2 linked regions of the Homo sapiens genome follow. The protein of the gene in region 2 interacts with the protein of the main gene of each other region in a pairwise test. Each region holds a gene or a part of one and is shown on either strand. Other genes may lie near its edges.

Region 1 (3,816 bases), on a different chromosome or scaffold from region 2:
GACTGCAATTGCAAATAACAGGGAGACAAATATTCAAAAGGCTTTTAAGCAACATTTTCTGCTACAGGCAACTGCTGATGGTTCTTATCTGAGTGCAGTCTCTTAACTGATGTGATTACTTGAATATTCAAAATAAATTATCATTTGAGGAAATTATCAATTGAGTTCTCCAACCTAATTTGTGCAAAGTATACAAAGGCAGTGATACCTTAAGCTGAAATTAAAAGACGGTGGAGAAACATAATAAAGATTAGTTATGCAACCCCCCAAACGAAAATGTCTTAAAAGATTTTAATTCAAGCCTGTGTAACATAAATAAGGCATATAACACAAAAACACATTTCTTTTTTAAAACTCAATCTACACGCCCACATTTTATAACTGTTGTTTGGGTGTGAGGGTGAGTGAGGAGAGGGAGAAGCAAAGTTAAATGTGTAAAAAATGGGGGAAAATCCTGCTACAATACAGCATTTTTCAAAGGGACACACAGTCTAGCAACTGTGTATTCATCTCCTCTATAGCATGTCTCTGAAACCAACAGTTGTTTTATCACCTGTTCAGATTCCATGTGAATATATAAGCCACCCCATGAATTTTGTGATTCTCTTATTTTAGGAATGCTGATACTTATAGCCATTACAATGTTGCCAAACCTAGTGTCCCACACCCAGAAAGAAAACTCAGTTCTGAAAGAGTCTAAGGATCCTAAGAGAACTGAAGGTGGTGGCAGACTTGTCTATAGCCTGAACACCATGGCCCAGCACAGTGGCCCTTAATGGGGCCTTGTATCAAAATGACTTAATGTCATTCTCTATCAGAATGTTTTCAAAATATAGTCACGCATCGCATAATGACCTTTAAATCAACAATGGACCACATATACAATGATACTCCTGTAACATTATAATGGAGCTGAAAAACTCCTATTGCCTAGTGACATCATAGCACAATAAAACATTTGTGGTGATGTTGGTGTAAATAAACCTACTGCATAGCTAGACCTGTAACAGTATCACACATAAAATTATGGACAGTACATAATGCTTGATGCTGATGATAAAGAACTATGTCATTGGTTTATGTATTTGGTATACTATACTTTTTTATCATTAATTGAGTGTACACCTTCTAATTACATATTTTAAAAAGTTAACTATGAAACAGCTTCAGATAGGTCCTTCAGGAGGTATTCCAGAAGAAGGCATTGTTGTCATAGGAAATGACAGCTCATGTGTGTTACTGCTCCTACAGACCTTTCAGTGGGACAAGATGTGGAGATGGAAGACGGTGACATTGATGATCCTGCCCCTGTACAGACCTAGGCTAATGTGTATGTTTGTTTTAGTTTTTAACAAAAAAGTTTAAAAAACTTTAAAAGGAGAAAAAAAGCTTGAAGAATAAGGATACGAAGAAATAAAATATTTTTTTTGCAGCCATACAGCCTGTGTTTTAAGCTAAGTATTATTACAAAAGAGTAAAAAAGTTTAAAAAATTTATAAAATAGAAATGTTACAATAAGCTACAGTTTATGTATTAAGGAAGAAAAATATATATTAAAATAATACATATTTTTAAAAAAACTTTTATTATAAATAAGTAGAGATGGAGTCTTGTGATATTGCCCAGGCTGGTCTTAAATGCCTGGTCCCACCTCAACCTCACAAAGTGCTGAGATTACAGACATGAGCCACCACACCTAATCAAAAAATATTTTTTATAAACCTAATGTAGCCTAAGTATACAGTGTTTATAAAGTCTAGAGTGTACAGTAAAGTCCTAGGCCTTCACATTCACTCCCCACTCACTGACTTACCCAGAGCAACTTCCAGTCCTGCAAGCTCCATTCATGGCAAGTGCCCTACATAGTTGTATCATTTTTTATCTTTTATATTTTTACTATATCTTTTCTTCATTTAGATATACAGATACTTGCCACTGTGTTACAGCTAGCTACAGTATTCAGTACAGTAACTTGCTGTACAGGTTTGTAGCCTAGGAGCAATGTGGTATATCATATGCCCTATGTATGTGGTAACCATCTAGGTTTGTCTAAGTACACTCTATGATGAACACACAACAACAAAATTGCCTAAGAGTACATTTCTCAAAAAGTATTCCCATTGTCAAGCTATACATGACTTGTACGACTTGTACACCTGACTTACATTTTCACCCAAGGGAGATCAGGCAATCTGGAGATAGAGGCTCCCTAAAGAATGTGAGTGTCTTTCCCTCCCGTCTGCATTTCTCTGAGCGTATATACCTTGTAAATCAAACCAGATGGGGCTAGGACCGGGTAAGGAAACCAATGCTGGATGCCCTTGGCCAGTCATACTAATCCAGCCACACTAGACCAGTCAGGCTAGTGAACACTGACTCAACTGGGCTTTTGAACACTGATTTCTTACACTAACAATTGTAAGCTATTCAGTGTGTACGCTTCTGATTTTCCCCAAAAAAGAGGTTTAAGTTCAAAATATCTAAAATAAGGAGTAATGGAAGAAACAAACGGTCACCCTTTCAAGTATTGATCATAAATGTTATTCCCTATTAGCTTTCTTTATCTAAACCTTTATTTAGTTACTGTCAACAGAAGCTATATGTTGATTATACCGTCAGCCTCCCAGAATGTAACGATGAATAAGAAACTCAACCTTGTTTCCTCTCATGTATCTAAAGCTGCAAATACAAAGATCACTACTTAGGTCTGACAGGTGTACAGCACAGCAGGGTGGCCAAGATTAGAGTCTTTAAGCCAATCTGCCTGGGTTTGAATCCTGCCTCTGCCACCTACTAGCTGTGGATATTTGGACAAGTGACTTAACCTTTATCTTAGTTTCCTCATCTGTAAAATTGGGGTCCCTACCTCGTGGGCTTTTGTGAAGCCACAATGAATTAATACATGTTGAACACTTCAGAAAAGTGCCTATTATGTGGTACCAAGCAGCTATATTCAGTACCCATAGAACAGCTTTGTTCTCTTTAAAATTTGCAGAATATTCCGTTGCCCAGCTGTAGCATGATTTATTCTTTTCAAGGACATTTAGTCTACTAACTCTTCCAATCTTTTGCTATTAGAAACAATGCTTCAATAAACATCCTATATAACAGAGAGACGTTTTTACTATGCTAATTAAATTAAGTCAGTGCCCCACCTAACTTTCATGTACAATACTGATAGTTTTAATACCCTCCAAAGTAGGCACAGGATTATCACCTTCCAAGTTCTACATAGATTCTAGGGTCTCAAGGAGGTAGAGTGACTTACCTGCTGAAGCCCACGCAGCTGTTAAGTGGCAGAGGTGGAACCCCGCATAGGTGCAGGCTGCCAACCCAATCTGCTTCCCACAGCTGTCCTTACTTAAAAGAAGTACAGGAGGTATTCTTTTAAATGCACCTCAGATCCATCACAGAGATTAATATGCAGAAGTTCGGACAGAAGCAAACTCAAATTTTCACACAGATGCTTCTAACAAATACAGCTGATGGAGGCGTCAACGACTTCTGTAAATATTGAAGTATTATTTCTTCTGCCAAAGACTGAAGCAGAAGTACCCTGAATACTACCCCTAGGGAGATACATCACATTTCAAACTCCCCTGGAAGCAAATGAATAATTACTGAATTTGGTATCATGAGAACTATTCTTCAGGGAAGGAGAAATTCATAACACTCACTTTGTTGTAGCATTTGCTGTGCCAAGACCAAAGAGGAACAAGTACTACTCTGGGGTTCAGAAACTCATAAAACACAGACCTGAGTGGCCAATTCGCCAGCATGGCTTCAATTAGGTCTGTTCAGCATGGGCTTATAAGA
Region 2 (3,816 bases):
GTGAACCCCTGCCACACTCTGCTCTGGAACATCATCTCAAGATGGAAGGGAGGGACAGGATTAGGTCTTTATTAGTGCAGTAATTGCCATTATTAATAACATCCTCTAACTCAACAGGGAATTTTTGTTTGTAAAGCTGCTTCCAGCCTGGTCCCCCTGGAGAGCAGCAGGGCAGGATCGCCAGGTGGGCCGGGCAGCAGAACGGTGAGCAATGCCTCTGATTTCTGCCTCTGATCAGAATCCTGGTGAGAACACCAGGGCTCAAGTCATGGCTGGGCATTTACCACCCCCGTGACTTCAGGTAAGTTTCCCAAGGCTGGGAAGTTTCCTGATCTGAGGAGCAGGAAGAGCCTAGCAGGTGCCTGACAGATGCCCTGTGGTCAAAAGCAGGAGGTGTTGTTATAATCAGAATCCAAGACAGCCTGACGCTCAGGTCTACTGTGCGAGCTGGCCGTGCCATGGCTGACCAGGTAGAGCAAGCTCTGTGATGTGTGTAGCAGTGGCGAGGCAGCCCGAGGGTCTCACAGGAGAGAGGCAGCTCCACCTGCCCTGGGGCTGCACTCCCTGACCTTCCACAGCCCCTATGTGTGGCAGTGGCGAGGCAGCCCGAGGGTCTCACAGGAGAGAGGCAGCTCCGCCTGCCCTGGGGCTGCACTCCCTGACCTTCCACAGCCCCTATGTGTGGCAGTGGCGAGGCAGCCCGAGGGTCTCACAGGAGAGAGGCAGCTCCGCCTGCCCTGGGGCTGCACTCCCTGACCTTCCACAGCCCCTCTGTGTGGCAGTGGCGAGGCAGCCCGAGGGTCTCACAGGAGAGAGGCAGCTCCGCCTACCCTGGGGCTGCACTCCCTGACCTTCCACAGCCCCTCTGTGCACCTTGGGAATTCTTCCCTACACCCCTCAGGTGATGTCCCCCAAGACGCCCGGAGATTCCAAGTCTCTGGGACAGACACAATGCTGCCCACCTCCCAGGAGGCTGCAGGATCAGACTAATGACATGGAAAGGCAGGGCTCCTGGAGGGGCCAAGTGACATGGCCAGGGTCCCACGGCTAAGATGTGGCAATGCTGTGTCCCTACCTGGATGTTACGTAAGTCAGGGCTGGGTTGTAGCCCTCCCCACAGGGCAAATCAGAGGGAGAAAACGAGGCAATCTTCCACTGTGGAAGAAAACAACAGTTGATCTGGCCACAGCACTGGGCCAGAGGCTCCCAGGCCAGCGTGAGTGCCTGGCTCTGCTCACTGGCTTCCATGCTGGGGAGGGCTCGAGCCTGCAGCCTGAAGCCCAGGGTTGCCAGGACAATGAGCAGCAGCTGCTGCCAGTCCACTCAGCTGCGTGGCTAGCCCACCAATCCATCGAGGGGGCCCACAGCGCAGCCACCACAAGGCACCCAGCACACAGTGCCAAGGCATGGAGCCTGGCCCCTGCAGGCTCCAGACACAGGCCCTCGGTGTGGCACTGCTCCACCCAGCCCTGTCTCCAGACCTCTTCGGCAAACCTCAGCCTGGGCCCCGGGTTCCCTGCTCAGCACCAACAGCCATCAGAAAAGCCCAGGCCTCACCCTGCCTCCCAAGACCCTCACAGGCTGACCCGAGTCAGACCTGCCTACTAGGAGTCCAGCACTGCTGTGCCTTCCCTTGGGCCTCCCGCTGCCTGGAGTAGCTGCCTCTCCTGCCCTCCCCAGCTAAGGCCACTCAGCTCTCCAGACACAGCTCAGGCCTCACCAGCATCCAGGATTCTTCCCAGGTATCTACCCAGCCCTGCCCAAAACGCACCCCCAAACCCTCCCAAAGCGCACCCCCAGCCCTGCCCAAAACACACCCCTAGCCCTGCCCAAAACATGTCCCCAGCCCTGCCCAAAACACACCCCCAGCCCTGCCCAAAACACACCCCTAGCCCTGCCCAAAACATGCCCCCGGCCCTACCCAAAACACACCTCCAGCCCCAAAATATGCCCCCAAACCCTCCCAAAGCACATCCCCAGCCCTGCCAAAGCACAACCCCAGCAGAGTCAGCTCCCCTCTCCACCTCCTCACTCCACCGCCTCAACCTTGCTCTGTAAGGTGCCCTCTCCACCTCCTCACTCCACCGCCTCAACCTTGCTCTGTAAGGTGCCCTCTCCACCTCCTCACTCCACTGCCTCGACCTTGCTCTGTAAGGTGCACAGCAGTGTCCGGAGCAAGGCCAGGACAGCCTGATCCTGCTTGCCACTGTGTCCATCCCAAGACTCATGCCAGGCATGGCCTTAGCATAGTCTCACAGAACATTACACATCTCAGACAGCAGCCCTGATGGCAGGGGCAGGGGCTGGGGACTTGCCAATGACCCTGTCCAGGCAGGAACACCCAGTAGACTGTCCTGCTTGCCTGCAGTGGCCCCCAAGTGGGTTCACATCCTAACAGGACCTACCCAAGGACAAAAAAGGAAGGGCCCTGTGCAGCACAGTCCGGATTTGAAGCCCACACGGAGCCACCTTCACCCCCATCCCAGACTCAGCAAGCCGCAAGTTGACGAGAGAATCTCATAGCCTGGATAAGGCCAGGCAGGACAGCCACAGCTGGCTTCTGAGGACAGCCCTGGATGGCAAGCAGGACACCCCGAAGCAAGGCCCCTGCAGGAGACACCGCCCAACTGGGCTCCGTAGGTGAGGACACCCCGCCCATAAGGCATCTTCAGAAACCTATTCAAGGCACCTGGCTTGTCATTGTTGGTAGTGCCCTTCTTCTCTGCCAGGGAACTCAGACCAAGAAAACTCTTCCTATGGAAGCTTCCAGATGGCTCCACCATGCAGCACTAACAGGAAGGATAGTGGAATAAGAACAGCACAGGCTCAAGATCAGCTGTGAAACAACCCCTCACGTCTTCAGCAAATCCCCATCGGGCATTCACTGGGCCCCAGGCCCTGGGCCACAGCTGGATGGACGTTCAGAGACGCACAGCTCCCCGCGGGTGGGGTGGCAGACAGGGAGGTGTGGAAAGGTACAGAGTCCACCACTGGCGCTGGGGACCGTGGGGGCAGGAGGAATGATGATCTTCCCCAGCTGCCTCAATGCGCCCAAGAGGGAGAGGATGAGGATGCCCTCAGTACAGAGAGCAGAGCCAAACATAAGCATCCACACTGAACAACTGACTGTCACCTCTGGAGGGACAGCGCCGGCCATGAGCTCTCCAACTCTCTCACTCACTCCTTCTTGCCTTTAGTCTTTTGGTCACCACTGCTCCACACACAGATGCCACAAATGTTTAGACAGGGCTGAGCATCCCAGCAGAAAGCAGAGGAATCTGAGAGGAGGGCTGCTCAGGAGTCTGCTACTATGGACGATGCACAAATCAGACTTTAAAGAACACAATGAATGACAGCTGGACTGGGCCACAAGGTCAAAGTCTACTTGTAGCAAGTAACACCATCCAAACAAACCCAGTAGCCACAGAAACGCCCGTGTGCATTAAAACAAAAAGCCTGGAGCCAGACGCCATGACTCACGCTGGGAATCCCAGCACTCCGGGAGGCTGAGGCCAGAGGATGGCTTAAGGCCAGGAGTTCAAGACCAGCCTGGGCAACTGGGCAACACAGTGAGACACGCCTATCTCAAAAAAAAAAAAAGAGGTGGCTGGGCACGGTGGCTCACACCTGGGATTACAGTGTGTGGCTCAGGCAGGTTGATCACCTGAAGGTCAGGAGCTTGAGTCTAGCCTGGCCAAAAAGAAGAAGTGGCTGGGCACAGTGGCTCACGCCTGTAATCCCAGCACTTTGGGAGGCTGAGGCAGGTTGATCACCTAAAGGTCAGTAGTTTGAGTCCAGCCTAGCCAACATGGTGAA

Evidence for each region.
Region 1: the proteins of TSNARE1 (region 2) and ELOVL5 interact in a two-hybrid assay, tested with the Homo sapiens proteins (one large-scale study listed by BioGRID).

What each region holds. Positions count from the first base shown.
Region 1 is NC_000006.12:53,338,686-53,342,501, forward strand, and holds part of ELOVL5 (very long chain fatty acid elongase 5), read right to left. Parts: intron 1-3,816. UniProt on the Homo sapiens protein: Catalyzes the first and rate-limiting reaction of the four reactions that constitute the long-chain fatty acids elongation cycle.
Region 2 is NC_000008.11:142,396,453-142,400,268, forward strand, and holds part of TSNARE1 (t-SNARE domain-containing protein 1), read right to left. Parts: intron 1-3,816.